Linked DNA regions of Homo sapiens: all the other regions are linked to region 2. Evidence: fine-mapped expression QTL. A gene starts in region 2. Each other region holds a variant in brackets. All regions are shown on one strand. Distances are from middle to middle.

Region 1 (5,155 bases), 140 kb before region 2:
ATTAGAAAATCTAGCTGTCTGCAAGGCATGGTGGCTCGTGCCTATAATCCCAGCACTTGGGGAGGCAGAGGCCAGCGAATCTCCTGAGGTCAGGAGTTTGAGACTAGCCTGGCCAACATGGTGAAACCCCGACTTTACTAAAAATAGAAAAATTAGCCGAGTGTGGTGGTACATGCCTGTAATCCCAGCTACTCAGGAGGCTGAGGCAGGAGAATCACTTGAGCCCAGGAGGTGAAGGTTGCAGTGGGCTGAGATTGTGCCACTAGACTCCAGGCTGGACAAGAGAGTGAAACTCCGTCTCAAAAAAAAAAAAAAAAAAAAAAAAAAAAAAGCCTAGCTGTCTCGGCTGGGCGCATTGGTCCATGCCTATAATCCCAGCACTTTGGGAGGCCGAGATGTGACGATCACTTGAGGTCAGGAGTTCGAGACCAGCCTGGCCAACATGGTAAAACCTCGTCTCTACTAAAAATACAAAAATTAGCTGGGCATGATGGTGGGTGCCTGTAATGCCAGCTACCTTGAATGCTGAGGCAGGAGAATTGCTTGAACCTGGGAGGCAGAGGCTCCAGTGAGCCCAAGATTGCGCCATTGCACTCCAGCCTGGGCAACAAGACTGAAATTCCACGTTAAGAAAAAAAAAAGAAAACCTAGCTGTCTCTTTACAAAAAGTGAATCCTGAATCCAGACCCATGTGATTTACCACTTATCTGATCCATTAACCCTCACCTGGATTATGGCAGGAGCCTTATCTCTGACCTTTCTTCCTCTTCCCTCAACCCACAGTCTATGCAACAAGGTCCAGCCAGATGAAGCCTGTAGCCAGGTAGAACTGTGGTAATATCACCTCCTGACTTTGATCCGTTTTATCTCTAAGCATTTCACAACCTGGTAGCAAATCCTGGGTTAATCTTACAAGGGTGTTTACATTGGTTGACAGAAATGGGAATACCTCCATATAACCTGTCATGGACTTGGTATCCTGGCTTCAGAGATTCTCCAGGGTCCTCGGATCAAAGGACTGAAAAAAATGGCACTTAAGAGTCCCAGGACACCACAAGCTAGAGAACCTGTAGATGGCGTCAGGACCAATGAGGGAATGGAACACCCTCCACTTCCCTGTGTGGGTTCCCTAAGTGCTTCTGCAGCCAGGAGTGCCTGAGGGGAAAGGCAGACATTACAAACATGTCACAGGATTTGATAAGCTCAGGACTCCCTGAACCCTTTCTTGTCCCTGGAACCAGGTAACCCTAAGGCTGGTTGTCTGACCTGCTTTTCTCAGTGCAAAATGTCATCTCTACCATCTATGTGATCTACAAAACGGATTCAACCTCCCAAGGCCCCAAAGTCCTCATCCTCTCTCTCTATGATGTTCTTCCTTTGATTGGCCTTTGGGAAACTTCTTAAAAGCCTGGATTTGGATCATGTCCCTCCTTTCTTCAAAACTCTCCATGGCTTCTAGAATCCTCATGATGAATGCACAGCCCCTGGCCTGCTTGCTCTACCAGGAAGAGCTCCATCTCACACGTTGTTCCTGACAGATGCCTGTGAACCCCAGGTTCCATCCTTCCAGCTCTGTCCATCTGCAGGCCATTGCCTGCACCCCTACCTGTGCCTGTCACTCTCCCCACTGCATCCCACTGGTGTCAGAAACAGGTGAAACCGACTTTGCAAAATTATAACTGACGAAATTATGACAGTGAAAGAAATCAGACCTAACCGACTCCATCTTGCTTCCAACCTTTCAGCCGTCTTTTTTCATTCCTGGGCATAGGCTGAATTAACTTTGGAAAAGAATTCAGTTCATGGTTTCACTCTGAAACAAAATTGATAATAGCCCTTTCCTGAAAAGACCCCTTTCTTGCCTGGGGACCAGCCTGTCTTTGCAGGACTAACAAATTAGCTACAAGAATAGAAATTACGGTTTAGGGGTCATGCAGCTTCTGGCTCCAAGAGTCTGAACCTCCCCAAGTTGCTCCTGAAGATAACCTTACTATTGTAAAACCTAATGTGAGTTTCTGGGGTGCTAGTTGAGTTGGTCTCCCCTGTGTGAGACACCCATGGGAAGCCATGGGCGGCCTCTGAGGAGAAAAGTCTCCTTATTGCCTTCATGTCTTTATGCCCCGAGAGCATAACTCTTCAGCAGCATTCC[A/G]TGGGTTGCTCAGGGAGATCACACTCCCTTGAAGCAGTGGAGCATAATCAAACATCTTGGCTCCTCCTGAAACCCGCAGCCACCCGTTTCAGTTAAGTTAAAGATCTTAAGTAGTTTAGACACACGCCTTTGTTCAAGGAAATTCACAGAAACGGCCAGTGCTTTACATCTTATGGAATGACTCACGAGTTCTCCTTTACTGATTAATCCTTTTCCTGATCGCTTCCTCCCCCTCCAATCAGCCATAAGAACAAAGAGCTTGTAAACCAATAAACTGGGTGGAGCCCAAGAGCTCTGGGCCGCCAGGAAGCCTCCAATGCTCTGGCCACCTGGACCCGCCTTTTAAATGCGTATTCTGTCTCTTTCTAACTCCTTTGTCTCCGCAGGACTCGGGGTATCTGCTGGGTGGTGTGGGGCTGGTTTCCCCAATATCTAAGATCAGTGCTTGGGGCATTTTGCAGATCCTGCACTGGATGGATCAGCGGACAACACACAGACCGGTAATCTGGGTCAATCAGTTCTGCCATCCCACCCAGAACAGAAAACAGCATGAAAAACTCACTTTAACCCCCTATGAATCCATCTCCAACCAGACTGATCAGCACTCCCCACTTCCCAAGCCCCTACCCGCCAAATTTTGAAAACTCTGATCCCAGAATGCTCAGGGAGACTGATTTGAATAATAAAACTCCTGTCTCCCGAACAGCAGGACGGCTCTGCGTGAATTACTATTTCTCCATCGCAATTCCCCAGTCTTCATAAATCGGCTCTGTCTAGGCAGCTGGCAACGTGAACCCACTGGACGGTTACAAGGAGAGGCCTCCTGTGAGCGCCTCAGTGTTCCTACGCCGGGTACCGGCTACAGACCCACGAGCAGGAGCCGCTCCCTCGCTGGTTTAGGACCTGGGTGACGATGGGGTGACCTGAGGGCACAGAAGGCACCACAATTACCTGAGTTGGGCGCCTCGGCACAGCCGCTGCCATCGGACTACTTGGGGAAGCACGGCCCGGGAGCAGTGGTCGCCGTCACGGGGCTGCAGAGCCGCCTCTGGGCACCGAGGACGATTCCTCTCCACCTTCTAGGTTCAGTCACCGCGGTCCCACCCAGCACTCAGGGGCCACAAACTGGGGAAACACCCGCATCGCCGATACACAGCCGCTACTAGAGACCCCGGAAGTCTCGGCCTTACGTTACGTGCACACGTGGAAATGCCTTCTTTCCGAGTGCTCACTGGCTCTGACCGGCTGTCGTTTAAAGCAGAGCTTTCTGGGTAATGTAGTTCCCCACTTTCCATGACACAACATGGTTACCAGGTTCTGAAATGTTCATGGCTCAGATGCACCTCCAAGCCTTTGTACCTATTGGTTCCTCTACCTGTATTACTCTAGCTGGGGTGAAGCCTGTAATACACAGCATTTACCTGAGCTAGGTCCCTCAGTGTGGCTGCTGCCATCAACTGTGGGTGGAGCAGGCATCACCCCAGCCAGTGCCTATGAGCCTCAGACCTGCCACTTGGGAGCAGAGATGACTACTCCTCTTGTGCCTTCTCAGTCCCAACCCAGTACTCCCTGGCCTGACAAGCATGCCCAGAAATCCCTCATCCTGGGCCTTGCAACTAGCGCCTTCTGGGTAAAGTACTTCCCAGAGCTCTCAGCCAACAATGGTGGTATCCTCCAAGAGCAAACCGAATGCAGACCATGTTACATTCTGAGGGCTGCTGGAAAGCCCTGCTCACACCTCAAAGGAGGAAGATTATTGATTCTTTGTAAAAGCATCAAATAGGTATCACATCAGACTCTAGGAAGCTCATCCTGCACCCAGAGAATAAAAATACTATTTGAGATGCTCCCAAACTTTACTTATCTAAGTGGCCATATCATTGGCATCATTCAGACTTACAATGTGTGCACTCAGAGCTGAGAACATTAAGTATTGATTGCTCTTTAAATTCACGTAGACTGAATCATTACAGTCAGTTTTGCGAGTTTCATTGTTTTGTTGGGAACAAAAGAAAATTCTCCATAAGACATGATGACAGGATGGGTACAAAAAACAGTGAGCAAAAATGAATAAGACCTAATATTTGCTACCATAACAGGGTGGCTATAGTCAAAATAATTTAATTATATATTTAAAAATAACTAAAAGAGTATAACTGGACTGTTTATAATACAGAGGATAAATGTTGAGGTGACTGAGACCCCATTTACCCTATGTGATTATCACATATGGCATGGCTACATCAAAATATCTAATGTAATCTACAAATATATACACTACTATATACCCACAAAAAATAAAAATAAAGGCCAGACATGGTGGCTCACACCTGTAATCCCAGCACTTTGGGAGGCCAAGGCAGGTGGATCACCTGAGGTCGGGAGTTCGAGACCAGCCTGGCCAACATGGAGAAACCGTGTCTCTACTGAAAGTACAAAATTTTCCAGGCATGGTGCTGCATGCCTCCAATTCCAGCTACTCGGGAGGCTGAGGTAGGAGAATTACTTGAACCCTGGAGGTGGAGGTTGCGATGAGTCGAGATCATGCCATTGCACTCCAGCCTGGGCAACAGGAGTGAGACTCTGTCTCAAAAAAAATAAAAAATAAAAAATAAATAAATTGCTGGGTGCAGTGGCTCATGCCTATAATCCCAACACTTTGGGAGGCTGAGTCAGGTGGATCATGAGGTCAGGAGTTCGAGACCAGCCTGACCAATATGGTGAAACCCCATCTCTAATAAAAATAAAAAAATTAGCCGGGCACGGTTGCTCACGCCTGTAATCCCAGCACTTTGGGAGGCCGAGGTGGACAGATCATGAAGTCAGGAGATCAAGACCATCCTGGCTAACACAGCAAAACCCATGTTAAAAAAATTGCTGGGCATGGTGGCAGACACCTGTAGTCCCAGCTACTCGGGAGGCTGAGGCAGGAGAATCGCCTGAACTCTGGAGGCAGAGGTTGCAATGAGCTGAGATCGCATGACTGCACTCCAGCCTGGCGACAGA
Region 2 (5,109 bases):
GGCAGGCGCCCGTAGTCCCAGCTACTCAGGAGCCTGAGGCAGGAGAATGGCGTGAACCTCGGAGGCTGAGCTTGCAGTGAGCCGAGATCGTGCCACTGCACTCCAGCCTGGGCGACAGAGCAAGACTCTGTCTCAAAAAAAAAAAAAAAAATGTGTGCGTGCATGTGTATGTATCTGCTTTCTCTCCAAGAGGACCTAATAATCAATGATTTACCAGTAGAAAAGAGCACAGCTAATGCTTACTAATATTTACAAGCATTGTTATCTATTGAAGAAAACCAGAGCTCCTTGAAAAAGAGGCTGATTCTGGGGCTGGGATAGCAAGGGTACAACATGAGCCTGAAAATATTTTTGGATTAGAAAGTAATGAAATTATCAATAATATTGACATAAAAAAGCAGAGAGCACAGCTTTAATGAGTTCCCACTGTCCAAACATCTGGGAGAATCTGAACATTAAAATAAATGTTGGGGCCGGACGCAGTGGCTCACGCCTGTAATTCCAGCACCTCGAGAGGCCGAGGTGGGTGGATCATGAGGTCAGGAGTTCAAGACTAGCCTGGCCAAGATGGTGAAACCCTGTCTCTACTAAAAATACAAAAAATTAGCTAGGCATGGTGGTGGGCAACTGTAGTCCCAGCTACTCGGGAGGCTGAGGCAGGAGAATGGCGTGAACCTGGGAGGCGGAGCTTGCAGTGAGCCGAGATCGCGCCACTGCACTCCAACCTGGGTGACAGAGCAAGATTCCATCTCAAAAAAAAAAAAAAAAAAAAAAGTACATTACCTTGCTGAGAATTAAAAAGAAAATTTTATATTCGAGTGCTATTTATTTTGCGGCTCCAAAACTTTATAACAAAGCAGCAGAGATTTCTCGGCCAGGCTCGGTGGCTCATGCCTGTAATCCCAGCACTTTGGGAAGCCGAGATGCGTGGATCACCTGAGGTCAGTGGTTCGAGACCAGCCTGGCCAACATGGTGAAACCCCGTCTCTTCTAAAAATACAAAAATTAGCTGGGTGTCATGGCGTGCGCCTGTAGTCCCAGCTACTTGGGAGGCTGAGGCAAGATAATCGCTTGAACCCAGGAGGTGGAGAGGTTGCAGTGAAACAAGACTGCGTCATTGCACTCCAGCCTGGGCAATAAGAGTGAAACTCCATCTCAAAAAAAAAGAAAAAAAAAAAAGAAGAGATTTCTCACCTATATACCCTGAGTGTCTCTGCAGCCAGCAAAGCAGATGAAGGCCTGCTGGGTTGGAGCCCTAGGCCCTCCAATGCTGAAATGCCCTGTGAAGTCTCCATCCATCCAGGCACTCTAGTAACCTGCTTCTTCTGCCTGGAATTTATTCTAAAAATACCCACATGGCTCATTTCTCACTTCCTTCAAGTGCATTTCACCGGCTTTCTGATTAAGAAGTCCCACCTCTCCCCTTTGTCTCTTATCAAAGTAGCATTTCTTTCATTGTTTTTTGAGATTGATGTTAGACTTCTAGAAGGAATATATCTCAGATATCAAGTAAGAATTATGAAATGGATAAAAGCGTTGCTCAGTGAATTGGACACAGTTATTGACTGGACACAGTAATTGGACACAATAATTGACTATGCAGGCAAAAGATGTTTTCTGTTGGAATCAGACAGAATTCTACCTTTGTACTACTGTTTCAAGGTGATCTAACATTTCTCTTCTATCTTCTAGAAGCACTATCATGCCACTATCTGAAGTAGTTTTTCACCTGTCCCTGACCAAAAGTGCACAGACTGACTTCAATGCTTCGGAGTGCATACATTTGAAATGTAATATGATAGAGGCTGGGTACGGTGGCTTACGCCTGTAATCCCAGCACTTTGAGAGGCCGAGGCGGGCAGATCACCTGGGGCCAGGAATTTGGGACCACCATAGTGAAACCCTGTCTCTACTGAAAATACAAAAAATTAGCCTGGCGTGGTGGCGCGCGCCTATAGTCCCAGCTACTTGGAAGGTTGAGGCACGAGAATCGATTAACCCGGGAGGCGGAGGTTGCAGTGATCCCAGATGGCGCCGCTGCACTCCAGCCTGGGGGACAGAGGGAAACTTTGTCTTAAAAAAAAAAAAAAAGGAATAAACTTATATGGTAATGTTTATTAGCTTCCCTACTAGTGGATATATTTCGTGTCTGAATGGCTCTATGGAATGATGTACATATTTGGATTGGCAGCCTTAGGGAGCGTCTGATAATAATTTTAGCCTCTGGGAGCCTGCTGAACTTTATGAAGTTTGAAATAATATTCCCCAAACACTTGGGTGATCAGTTGCAGATGGCACCTCTAATATGCTGTCTGATTACGACCCATTTAAGAAAGGGCGAAGTCCCTCCACTGCCCTAGGACTTGGATAAGCCATTTCTCATCGCCCAGCGCCCTGGAGCTTCGCTTTTACTCCAAGAGGTTGGTGCAAAGGGTCCCCGGCACCCACCTCGGGATCTATGAAAACTACATTACCTAGAATGCTCTGCGTTGAACGCCACGCTACTAAGCCAGTAAGAGCTCAGAAAACCGACTTTCCTTGAGAGTCACAAAAAGAAAGGACGGGACTTTTGGGGGGGCCTCTTCGTGGCGGCCATTTTAGCTTCTCTGAGGTGTGTTCACCGGATCAGAGATAGCAGAGCGCCGAGTTGGGGCCACGAAGGCGTGAGGGGAGTCGTCGTCCCTCCTGCACGAAAGCGTCTAAGCCTTGGCGACGCCGCCCTGGGGGACCCACGTCAGGCCTGGGATAGGGACCGCTGTCCCCGGGTCCCTACCAATGTCGCCCGTCGCTCCCGGCCCAGCTCTACCCGCAGAGTCTGATGGCAGCGGCCACTCTGAGGACGCCAACTCAGGTGAGTGCGGCGTCTTCCCGTCCTCACACACCTTCCCCCACCCACGTTCTAAAGCCATCAGTGAGGGGCGCCTGCTCGAGTCCCCGCTGCCCAGGGTCGGGGACACTGAGGCGTTCGTGGGTGGGGCCCTTTTTTTGACACTGCGTGTGACGAGGTGTGGGAGAGCGTGACAGGCGGAGGAACCGGCGCGTGCAAAGGTTGAGGCGCGACTGAGCCAGGAGAATTCGGAAAGCTGTTTTCTGCAGGGAACGAAGAATATGAGGCGGAGTTACTCCTAGGGTTGTACTGTCATTGTGAGGATGCTAGAAGCCACGGAGAGTTCTGAACAAAGGAGGGACGCCATTTATGTTAGTTTTTTTTTCTTTGAGACGGAGTTTCGCTCTTATCGCCCAGGCTGGAGTGCAATGACGCGATCTCGGGTCACTGCAACCTCCGACTCCCGGGTTCAAGCGATTCTCCTGCCTCAGCCTCCCCAGCAGCTGGGATTACAAGCCTGCAGCTGGGATTACAACGTCCGGCTAATTTTTTGTATTTTTAGTAGAGACGGGATTTCACCATTTTGGCCAGACTGGTCTGGAACTCCTGACAAGTGATCCTCCTGCCTCGGCCTCCCAAAGTGCTGGGATTACAGGCGTGAGCCACCGTGCCCGCCCTATGTTAGGGTTTAAAAACTTTTCCAAAGACTGTTCACAGGAAGAGCAGCGATGGGGCGATGAGGACATTGAGATAGTGGGAGGCTACATCTTTTTTTCATTGCCCTACAGTTGGCAAGAGGTGACAGCACTGAGACCAGAAAGTAAAACAGCCAGCCTGAGTTCAGGGCCAGGCAGGGCTACAGGGAGGCTTGAGCTCATCTAGCCTCACCAGGGATGCATTCCTCTTTCCCTGGTTCTCCCAGTTGTAGAAGGGCGTATGGAACTCACATAGGGAAGTGGAGAGTGTTCGGTCCCTCAGTAGCCTCTACCCCCATGTTCTTGGGATTGTGGTTTCCTAGTATTCTTAAGTGCTGTTACCCCAATCCTGGGTCTGGTGCCCTGGAGAAATTCCAAGCCCAGGGCTCTTAAGTCCATGCCAGAGGTTACAGGGGTTATACTGAGGTGTTCCCATTTTTGTCAGCCAGTGGAAACTTGTGAAAGGTTATCTCTGGCACTGGTATCAGGAGGCGCAAGTGCTTAGTAAAACTAAGCTGAGATTTTTGAGGAAACCATAGATCTGTTTCCTTTTAGCTGGGAACAAAGAGCAGGGGGAAGGAGTCAGGACTGCAGTGGCTGCCTGAGAAGTTGGGTACCTATTCTGGAGGTAATGAGAGATTTGGGTTACAAGAGGGAGGTGATCTTACCAAAGTCCTAACAGGGTCCATCCCGTTAGCGTGGAGAGCAGACTGTGGGGTTGAGGGAAGAGGAAAGAAGATCAGAGTGGAAGCTACAGCCAGTCCAGGGTAATGGACCAGAGTCATTGATTAGGAGATGTGTTGCATTCTGGATGCAAATTTTTAAAGGGAGCAACTAAATTTTCTGATGTAGACAGCGAGGGAGTGAAACAGGATTCAGCGATGACCCCATGGTTCTTCAACTGAGATGGAGAAGTTGGTATTAACAGTAATATTCACTGGAGACAACAGGAGCTTTATTTGGTCATGTAAGAGTTTGAGATGTTTCAGAGACATTAAGTAGGCATTAAGTAGGTGGCTGAACACCCAGGTCTGGAAATCTGGGGAGTGCTTCAGAATGGAGACATCCAAAATGTGGTGGTCATTGTGTGGACTAAGGTGAGTGAGCTGTGGATTACATTTAGAAGGGTTGTTCTATTTTTTTTTTTTTTTTTTGAGATGGAGTGTCTCTCTTGTTGCCCAGGCCAGAGTGCAATGGCGCGAGCTTGGCTCACCACAACCTCCGCCTCCCGGCTTCAAGCAATTCTCCTGCCTCAGCCTCCCGAGTAGCTGGGATTACAGGCATGCGCCACCACGCCCGGCTAATTTTGTATTTATTTAGTAGAGACAGGGTTTCTCCATGTTGGTCAGGCTAGTCTTGAACTCCCAACCTCAGGTGATCCACCCGCCTCAGCCACCCAGAGTTCTGGGATTACAGGCGTAAGCCACCGCATCCGGCCTACAAGGGTTAATCTTTAGGCATGGTGGTACAGGTTATTTGGCCAGGAAGGGCAGAATGGGGGCTAAGGACCAAGCCTTTTGGTTGGATAAGTGGGTGATATTCTTGGGCTTTCTAAACAGAGGTAAGGGAGGTTAGTGGCTATGGAGG
Region 3 (5,155 bases), 40 kb after region 2:
TAATGCTTCCAGTCAACGTTTATAAAATGCTAATCTGCTCACATCATACCCCACTCTACTCTCTGGATGGCTCCCCTTTGCCCTCAGGGAAAAGCACTGAGTCCTTGTCCTACGAGGCTTTCCTGGGCCAGCTCTACACTTCTCAAGCTCCATCTTAGGTGTTGTGGCTGGTTCTCTATATCCAGGGACATTGGTCTCTCTCTCTCTCTTTTTTTTTTTTTTTCCTGTGGAACCCATGGCTTCCCCTTCATTTCACTTCCCTCCAAGTTCTCTTTTTGGATTACCCACCCTTTCTCCCCTATGACACACAGACCACATGTTCACACTTGGAGACATGCACTCCGTCCCACATAGACAAGACTGCAAAGTATTATGGCTTATTTCCCAGAACCTGGGAATTCAAAACAAGGCTACCGGAGCTCTAATCTGGAGTCTGGCAATTACAAACTGTGACGCAGGCATGCTACCCGTCAGGTCTGGGTCTGTATCCTGGGCTTTATGATCTCTAATGACACCCAGCTACATATTTCATATAATGCAATACAAAGGAATTACTAAGCTGGGCACAGTGGCTCACATCTGTAATCCCAGCACTTTTGGAGGCTGAAAGTGGGCAAATCACTGGAGGCCAGGAGTTTGAGACCACACTGGGCAACATGGCAAAATCCTGCCTCTACAAAAAATAGAAAAATTAACCTGGTGTGGTGGTGTGCGCCTGTGGTCCCAGCTGCTCAGGAAGCTAAGGTGGAAGGATCACTTGAGCCTGGGGAGGCTGAAGCTGCAGTGAGCTGTGATTGGGGCTACTAAACTTTAGCCTGGGTGATAGAGATCTTGTCTCGAAAAAAAAAAAAGAATTACTAGAACATAAAGTCATACGATAGACTTTTTGAAGAAAAATCTTCAGTCACACCAGGCCTTTATACAGAGTTCACAACATCAAGCCCTTTTGGGTCAGAGCTGTTGTAACAAAAGACCATTCCCTACACCTGGGAGACCCCCATATCTCTGTAGTTAGGAATTTTCCTGAAATAGCTATGCCTACATACACATGTATACACACTCAAAGACACAAAATTATGTATACACACTCAAAGACACAAAATGTATACACACTCAAAGGCACAAAATTTTCCTTCCATTATGGAAGCTTACCTCCTTGGTTGACTGGGTAATCCCGGGCCGAACACTGAGCTGATGTGTGACTAGCTTTCCACACTGGGTTTATCTGATGTGCCTCCTAAGGCTGCTCCCTTTTATAGGGGCTGGGATCAGTGATTGATTTAAAGACGTGATTGGATAACACTTGTCTGTTGATTGAATTACTGATGGAATCTTCATCCAGCCCCAGCTCCATGTCAGTGATTGATTTAAAGACGTGATTGGATAACACTTGTCTGTTGATTGAATTACTGATGGAATCTTCATCCAGCCCCAGCTCCATGTCTCTAATACAGTGTTCTATACCATCACTGGTCCTGGGTCAACAGGTCATAAACAAACACATTAATATTTCTGCAGGCTAGGTGCAGTGGCTCACACCTGTAATCTCAGCACTTTGGGAGGCTGAGGCAGGCAGATCACCTGAGATCAGGAGTTCAAGACCAGCCTGGCCAACATGGTGAAACCCTTTCTCTACTAAAAATACAAAAATTAGCCGGGCATGGTGGTGGGCACCTGTAATCCCAGCTACTTGGGAGGCTGAGGCAGGAGAATTACTTGAACCTGGGAGGCAGAGGCTAGAGTGAGCCAAGATTGCGCCACTGCATTCCAGCCTGGGAGACAGAGCAAGACTCTGTGAATCCCTAGCCTGAGCAACAAAGCAAGACCCTGTCTCTACCAAAAATAATGTTAAAAATGTTAGCCAGGCATGGTGGCATGTCTGTGTAGCTTGTTTGAGCCAGGGAGTTCATGGCTACAGTGGATTATGACCGCCCTACTGAACTCTGGCCTGGGAAATGGAAGGAGACCAAGTCTCTAAAAAAAAAACAAAACAAAACGAACAAAAAAAAAACCATGCCTGTAATCCCAGCACTTTTGGAGGCCGAGGTGGGCGGATCACGAGGTCAAGAGTTCGAGACCAGCCTGGCCAATATGGTGAAACCCCATCTCTACTAAAAATGCAAAAATTAGCCAGGCGTAGTGGCGCGTGCCTGTAGTCCCAGCTATTCAGGAGGCTGAGCAGAAGAATTGTTTGAACCACAGAGGCGGAGGTTGCAGTGAGCTGAAATTGTGCCACTGCACTGCAGCCTGGGCGACAGAGGTAGACTGTCTCAAAAACCAACAAACAAACAAACACACACAAAAATACAAAATCTGCGGTAAAATGTAACAAGGTCCACATTAAATGAAAATATAAAGACAGGCTGGGTGTGGTGGCTCGCGCCTGTAATCCCAGCACTTTGGGAGGCCGAGGCAGGTGGATCATGAGGTCAGGAGTTTGAGACCAGCCTGACCAACATGGTTAAACCCGGTTTCTATTAAAAATACAAAAATTATCTGGGCGTGGTAGCATGCACCTGTAATCCCAGCTACTCAGGAGGCTGAGGCAGAAGAATTGTTTGAATCCAGGAGGCAGAGGTTGCAGTGAGCCGAGATTACGCCACGGCACTCCAGCCTGGACGACAGAGCGAGACTGTGTCTCAAAAAAAAAAAAAAAAAAAAGGAAAATATAAAGACAAACGTTAGTCTCACAAATTCTGATCAAGTTTTATTATAAATTACTCATAGAAACATGACAAACTTTTGCTCAAACTTTTAAGTTTTCAGAGATTTATGAATTACAAGGGTGGCAGAGGGCAAGGCTAATGCTGTGACTCCTGTGCCAATTCCAGGCTGGTGAAACAGAGGGGGCCCGGGACCCAGAGAAGGCATTCCTAATCCATCAAAAAGATGACAGGGGTTGAGACTAGGATTATATCAGTGGAAAGGGAGAAATTGGTGCATATTTTATATTGAGAAAGCATATGATGTTTGATAGACTTAACATGAGGCTTGAGAGAGATGGAGGAGTTAAAATGGTGAGAAGCGCCTGGTCACCTAGTGTGGTGGAAGCTGTGCCTTCTTCCCTGCACTCTCCCTCCCCACTTTCCACCCTCATACAGGCTGAGGCTTTGGTGGAGTTGAGAAC[G/A]TATCGAAGGGGTGGGAGCTAATTACAGCCATGTGTTTCATCTGCTCCATCAGGCATGCAGCCTCTTGGGGCTTAGATTGTCCCCCTATCACTGTTGGGTACAGAGTTTGAATCTCCTGGTACTCCACTGATGAAATGTCTGCTTGACTTCCCCACATTAGGAATTATGTTCTGAATCCTCACATTATAAGACTGTGTACTAGTCCATTTCTCCAAGGAGTTTCATCCACATATACTCCATACAGAGAAGTATCCCTGCTCCCATCAAGAGCCAATTTTCCACTGGTGGTTTAGGTCCTGTCACCAACTATGTCATTAAACCAACTGTGACAGGAAAATTGGCTCTTGATGGAAGCAGGGATACTTCTCTGCTACAACAATGAAAAATGGGCTGGGCGCAGTGGCTCATGCCTGTAATCCCAGCACTTTGGGAGGCCGAGGCGGGTGGATCACCTGAGGTCAGGAGTTTGAGACCAGCCTGGCCAACATGATGAAACCTCGTCTCTACTAAAAAAATACAAAAATTAGCCAGGCATGGTGGCAGGCACCTGTAATCCCAAGTACTCGGGAGCCTGAGGCAGGAGAATCACTTGAACCTGGGAGGCCGAGGTTGCAGTGAGCCAAGATCGCACCACTGCTCTCCAGCCTGGGCGACAGAGTGAGACTCTGTCTCAAAAACAAACAAACAAACAAACAAAAAACAAACAAAAAAAAAACAATGAAAAATGTAGACAATGTGAGTACCACTGGAGGCCAGTTGTTAATTTGTGGTGGGTTGAAAGCATTTCCTGTCTGCTTCTGCAGTCTCAAGGAGTTCCTTGAGCTCTGTAAGGAGCTGTAAGGAAAAGGTTTGGGGAAAAGCTGGCAATTTCTGTTTGGAGGAGGTTATTGGATTTTTGAGTTCAGATATACAGCCAGCTGTTGGACATGCTGGTGTGTAACTCTGGGAGCAGTTAGACCTGAGGCACGATGATATCAGTAAGAGTAGTAATAGCATCAGGGATCATAATAACTAACCTTTAAGCAGTCAGGGCATATTTGACTCTGTTCTCAGTGCTTTCTGTATGTTAACCCATTTCCATCACAACAGTCCTGTAAAGTAGATCCTAAATAACTCCATTTTAACATCAAAATAACAGAGGCACAGAGAAGTTCAGTACCTTGGCCAGTGCTACATAGCCTGTAAGTGGCTGGGCTAGGATTTGATACCTGGCTCCAGAGTGGGACTCTGAATGCTACATTAAGAAGGCAAAGACACACAGCCACTGTGTAAAACCAGCAGCTTTCTAGGGAATGGGCTAATGGAGGAGTGAAGGGCATGAGCAGGAGGATTTATCCTTGGGGAAACACAGATGGTGGAGGAAATGACCTGGTGATACCCCAACTTAGGCATAGAATAAACAGGCACAAAACAATAAAAATAAATGTGAAATCCACATAGTAATTTAATCAAATAAGGATATTACAAAGACAACTATCAAATGCTTTTCTGATCAATTGGGAAGGCAGGTAGTGCTGCCTTTGGTAAAAATAGATGACCCGTTTACATCCAGCATCATCTCAACTTGTGTCTGGTGAGTATCCCCGCTCCAGTGTGAGTGAGGAAAATAACCTTTGTTTCCAAGAAGACAAAGCCAATCCGCCTCAGTATGTAGGAAACAGTGATTTCAATTAGAATAATAATAATAATAATAAAAACCTGGTAGGAAAATAAACAAAACTGTTAACTTTCTATTTTTTTCGAGACAAAGTCTTGCTCTGTCGCCCAGGCTGGAGTGCAGTGGCACGATCTTGGCTCACTGCAACTTCCGCACCCAGAGTAGCTGTGATTAAAGGCATGCGCCACCACACCCGGCTAATTTTTGTATTTTAGTAGAGACGGGGTTTCACCATGTTGGCCAGGATAGTCTCAAACTCCTGATCTCAGGTGATCCGCCCACCTCAGCCTCCCCAGGTGCTGGGATTACAGGCGTGAGCCACCACACCTGGTGACTTTCTTTTCTTTTTTTTTTTTTTTTGAGAAAAAAT
Region 4 (5,155 bases), 110 kb before region 2:
TTGAACCCAGGAGGCAGAGGTTACAGTGAGCCAAGATTGAGCCGTTGCACTGTAGCCTGGGCGACAGAGCGAGACTCTGTGTGAAAAAAAAAAACAAAAAACACTGACTAGGTAATTATTCAACAGTTCTGACAGAAGTAGTTCTGAGGAAACATCAGTAGATGGTGAAAAAACTTAGGGCCTCAGAGAAATGTTAGCACTGATGTCTAAGAGATGGAATTATGCTCAGCACATAATTGGAATGGTCACTCTGATGGTTTTGGCTTCAAAATGAGATTCTTCTTTTTTTTTTTTTTTTTTTTTTTGAGGTGGAGTCTCACTCTGTCGCTGTATAAAATGGACCAATCAGCAGGATGTGGGTGGGGTCAAATAAGGGAATAAAAGCTGGCCAGCCAGTAGCAGCAACCCGCCCAGGTCCCCTTCCACACTGTGGAAACTTTGTTCTTTCGCTCTTCGCAATAAATCTTGCTGTTGCTCACTCTTTGGGCCCGCACTGCCTTTATGAGCTGTAACACTCACCGCGAAGGTCTGCCACTTCACTCCTGAAGCCAGCGAGACCACGAACCCACCAGAAGGAAGAAACTCTAGACACATCTGAACACCTGAAGGAACAAACTCCAGACATACCATCTTTAAGAACTTTAACACTGCCCGTGAGGGTCTGCGGCTTCATTCTTGAAGTCAGCGAGACCAAGAACCCACCGGAAGGAACCAATTCTGGACACAATACCTTTCAAACAAGGGACCTGTCCAGGCTTCCTTCTGATGACCAACCCACCTCTAATGCTGGCCAGTCTATTTCACACAAAGTTCTAAGTTTTCCTGGTGTCATAGTAACACTGTAATCTCCCTTAAATCCTTTCTTGAAATGTTTCAACATAGTTCCTAGTGAAGTGGGCTTACTTTGTGCCTGACCCATGCTTCTTTGAGACAAAACACCACGCTCACACCACACGCACACCACAAAACAAAGAACAGGTAAAAAGGGCACACATACACTTTTACCGTTTACACCAAACCAGAATCAAAATCCAAATCAGAGTATCCAGAAATCCAAGCCAGGTCAAAACCAAAACGAAAGTATCAAGCAATCCAAATCAAGTCAAAAACAAAAACCAAAGTGCCGGTACAGGCATGCCGTGGGTGATCAGGCCACCCTTCCACTCAAATGGAGTGGGCAAGTTCCAAAGACTAGTCTTACCAAGTTTCAGATGTCCGGACTCCAAGTGCCTGTTCCTTCCCAGTGTTCAGCCGCTGCATTGATCCTCTGTGGGGGCCTGCCACACGCCACTCTGGCGAGGTGTTCCACTGGGGCAATTGCCTACCCGGGAGTGCTCTCAGGTTCTGCGTCCCTCAAGCTGGCCAGAGTCCCCTGTAGGGATGCTCCACAGGGCAGGCCTAAGCTGCCTAAGGGGCTGCCTCGACTATCTGTTAATCACCTGGCTTCCCAGTCAGGGAACCAAGAAATGTAGCAGGACAAGCCGCAGGGCTGTATTCAGCCTGGAGCTTTGGCAAGACTCACATCTCCAACTACCAAGCTCCCCAAGTGAGGAATTCCTGTCCCTTTTAAGGGCTTACAACTCTAAGGGGGTCCACATGAGAGGTTTGTGATCGATTGAGCAAGCAGGGGGTACACGACTGGGGGCTGCATGCAGTGGTAATCAGAACGGAACAGAACAGGACAGGGATTTTCACAATGCTTTTCCATACAATGTCTGGAATCCATAGATAACATAACCGGTTTGGTCAGGGGTCGATCTTTAACCAGGCCCAGGGTTGGCACCTGGCTGTCTGCCTGTGGATTTCATTTCTGCCTTTTAGTTTTTACTTGTTTCTTTGGAGGCAGAAATTGGGCATAAAACAATATGAGAGGTGGTCTCCTCCCTTAACAGCACAAACGCTTAATTAACATTTCTTTTTCTTTTGAGACAGGTTCTGTCGCCCAGGCTGGAGTGCAGTGGTGCAGTCATAGCTCAGTGCAGCCTGGACCACCTGGGCTCAAGCAGTCCTGACACCTCAGCCTCTCAAAATTTGGGATTACAGGCGCGCGCCACCGTGCGGGTCAGGAGGCTTCCCTGAGGGCCCCGGAGGTGGAGCTGGGCTTTTCCTTCCGAAGCGCCCCTGGGAATCTCTCTCTTTACGGCCTTGGAACCTGGGAAACTACATTACCCAGAAAGCTCTGCGTCAAATGACAGCACGGCAGAGCCAGTGAGAGTTCACATTGAAGGCGTTTCCGTGTGCGCAAGTAAGGTAGAGGCGGGACTCCCGGCGCCCTTTAGTAGCGACCATTTCCATTGGCGTTAGGGAGTCCTTGGAGCGCTGTGTTGGGACCGTGGTGGTGACTGGATCCAGGAGGTCGAGAGTCGTTCTTCTCTTTGCACAGACGTGACTCTGCAGCTCTTTAACGGC[G/A]CCCGCTGCTCTCAACCCAGCTTACCCCACGTGGTCCCATGGCGGCGGCCGCGCTAAGGTTCCCCGTTCAGGTAATTGTGGCGCCTTCCGTGCTCTCCGGTCACCTCCTAGTCACACAAGTCCTAAAGCAGCGAGGGAGCGGCACCTGTTTACGGCTCTGCAACCCGGACCCGGCGTCGGGACACTGAGGCGCTCTCGGGAGGGATCCCTGTTTCAGACACCCGTGGGATGCGGTGGGGAGAGCGACAGGTACAGGGAGGGGCGCGGGCAATGGCCTGGAGATGGACGGATCCGGGAGGATGGAACCTGGGGTCCACAGGCGCCTGTAGGGAACAACCTGTGAGGCGGAACTCCTCCTGGAAAAGCAAGGAGGCTGGGGGCTGTGAAATCATTGCGAGGACACTAGAAATAGGAGAATTTCCAAGAAAGAAGGGACTGGATCAAAGTCCAGGCTTTTAAAGTTTCCTAAAGGCCAAATAAATAACAGAGTAGAGAGGGGATGACGTTGGGGCCCTTTGAGATTGAATCCTTGTAGATCATATAGGTGGTAGAGATGACACTTTGTGCTGAGACACGCAGGTTAGACAATAGTCCAAGGTCACCTGGCTCCGTGGACACAAAAGCGTTCAGGGAGGCCTGAGCTTACCAGATCCTATCAGGGACACAGTCCTGTAAAGTCAGCCTCTTCCCTCAGGCCTTTATGGCTGTAGAAGCATTTAAGGAACGCATACAAGAAAGTGGAGGGTGGGGCCGGGTGCAGTGGCTCACTCCTGTAATCCCAGCACTTTGGGAGGCCTAGGCGGGTTGGTCCGGAGGTAGAGACCAGCCTGACCAACCATGGAGAAACCCTGTCTCTACTAAAAATACAAAATTAGCCAGGCGTGGTGGCGCATGCCTGTAATCCCAGCTACTTGGGAAACTGAGGCAGCAGACTCGCTTGAACCCGGGAGGCGGAGGTTGCGTGAGCCGAGATCGCGCCATTGCACTCCACCCTGGGTGACAGAGCGAGACTCCGTATCAAAAAAAAAAAAAAAAAAAAAAAAAAAAGAATGAGGTGCGTTCAGAGAGGGTATCTCTGCTGTGCTGAAGGTGCCACATTGGGCTTTCCATGACCTCGGCCATACTAGGGGAAGTGCCTGTCAGGAGGGGGTGGACTCTTATATCACAGCCACCGCACAGATACCTATTTGTTCAACTAACTATTGTTGTTGGTGGCTGTACCCCATGACCAGTGGGCCTAGTTTCTCCTATGTTTGAGGACCTTGAGAGGAGGATGTGCGAGAGTAGATGTGTGGGAGAGATGGATTGTGATACCTCAGCATAGGGGTGGTTTGTGGTTTCATCTGTCAACATCATAACAGGGCACAGTGACTTTTGAAGACGTGGCTGTGAAATTTACCCAGGAGGAATGGAATCTCCTTAGTGAGGCTCAGAGATGCCTGTACCGTGATGTGACGCTGGAGAACCTGGCACTTATGTCCTCCCTGGGTAAGTTGCCCACACTCACCCCTGTGACCTGAGCTAGTCTCTGTCTTTCCCCCTCTTTTTCTATTGGCAAGACTTTCTCATGTCAGGAGCATGGACACAGCTTCCTACTTCAGTTCTTGGTTGGTAGGACTGAGGTATGCATACTGCCCTCTCCATTCTTGGAGCAGCCCCAACACCTGCTATTGAGCTCCCAGGGAAGAATTCAGAGTCAGAAGTCTTACAGGCAACTTAATGCAGGCTACCTTGTTTGTCCTGTGGATGTTTGTGTGATTTCATCCAGATTTCAGGTTCGGGATCTAATTCATTCCTCTACCTGTTATTTCTTCATGCCTCCCTGTGCCAGGAATTGTCTTCATTGACATTGTCACTGCCTACATAGACTATAGACTGTTCTTGTAATACCGTCCTTAGAAATTCTCTTCATAGGTCTGGTGCAGTGGCTCATGCCTATAATTTCTGCACTCAGGGAGGCCAAGGTAGGTGGATTACTTGAGGCCAGGAGTTCGAGAACAGCCTGGCCGACATGGTGAAACCCCATCTCTACTGAAAATATAAAAATTAGCCAGGTGTGGTGGCACACGCTTTTAATCCTGGCTACTTGGGAGGCTAAGGTGGGAGGATAGCTTGAACCCAGGAGGCAGGGGTTGCAGTGAGCTGAGATTGTGCCACTGCGCTCCAGCCTGAGCAACAGAGCAAGACTCCGTCTCAAAAAACAGAAATTCTTTTTGTAATATTGTTTCCTGTCTGCTGTCATGTGCTGAGTTGTTCTAAGCCAGTGTTGGCTGTTTCCTTGTTCTGTCTTTCCCTTTGTTCTTACATCATGTATGTCTCATGTACTTGGTTATCTTGGTGGTGGGATCATCTTCTGTGGTCAGAAGATGCAAATGAATCTGGCCTCAGCATTATGGGTTCTGAGTCCCTGAAAAATAGCATCCTAGGACAGTGGTGCATGATGTCAAGAGTTTTATTCAAATCATGACAGAAACCTCTTCTATTTCAGTAGTATTTTTGGGGCCAGACAAGTAAGCACACATGATTTCTGTATCGTCTTTTCTCCTTCATTCTTGTTTTTGGTTTTGTTTGTTTGTTTTTTGAGAAAGGGTCTTGTTCTGTTGCCCAGGCTGGAGTGCAGTAGCTTGATCTCTGCTCACTGCAACCTCTGCCTCCTGGGCTGAAGCACTTCTCCTGCTTCAGCCTCCTGAGAAGCTGGGAATACAGGTGCATGCCATTATGCCCAGCTAATTTTTTTTTTTTTTTT

Evidence for each region. PIP is the estimated chance that this variant, and not a neighbour inherited with it, causes the effect.
Region 1: its variant is fine-mapped to the expression of ZNF154 in whole blood (TOPMed, PIP above 0.99).
Region 3: its variant is fine-mapped to the expression of ZNF154 in T cells (TOPMed, PIP 0.92).
Region 4: its variant is fine-mapped to the expression of ZNF154 in whole blood (TOPMed, PIP above 0.99).

Annotation. Positions count from the first base shown.
Region 1 is chr19:57,848,017-57,853,171 of GRCh38, reverse strand. ZNF587 (zinc finger protein 587) reads right to left here and starts at 3,313. Exons shown (of 3, transcript NM_032828.4): 1 at 3,101-3,313. The coding sequence starts at 3,133. It overlaps LOC124904782 (a long non-coding RNA gene), which reads left to right. Exons shown (of 2, transcript XR_007067358.1): 2 at 2,611-2,857. RefSeq lists enhancers at 1,672-2,871, 2,926-3,015, 3,066-3,305, 3,476-3,535, 3,606-3,715. The variant A/G (reference allele first, on the strand shown) is at 2,150.
Region 2 is chr19:57,706,681-57,711,789 of GRCh38, reverse strand. ZNF154 (zinc finger protein 154) reads left to right here and starts at 2,586. Exons shown (of 3, transcript NM_001085384.3): 1 at 2,586-2,851. The coding sequence starts at 2,819. RefSeq lists enhancers at 2,406-2,465, 2,486-2,615, 2,359-2,998.
Region 3 is chr19:57,666,565-57,671,719 of GRCh38, reverse strand. ZSCAN4 (zinc finger and SCAN domain containing 4) reads right to left here and starts at 2,785. Exons shown (of 5, transcript NM_152677.4): 1 at 2,517-2,785; 2 at 1,153-1,475. The variant G/A (reference allele first, on the strand shown) is at 3,128.
Region 4 is chr19:57,812,036-57,817,190 of GRCh38, reverse strand. It overlaps ZNF552 (zinc finger protein 552), which reads left to right and starts at 2,278. Exons shown (of 3, transcript NM_024762.3): 1 at 2,278-2,480; 2 at 3,771-3,897. The coding sequence starts at 2,448. RefSeq lists enhancers at 1,954-2,003, 5,011-5,155. The variant G/A (reference allele first, on the strand shown) is at 2,410.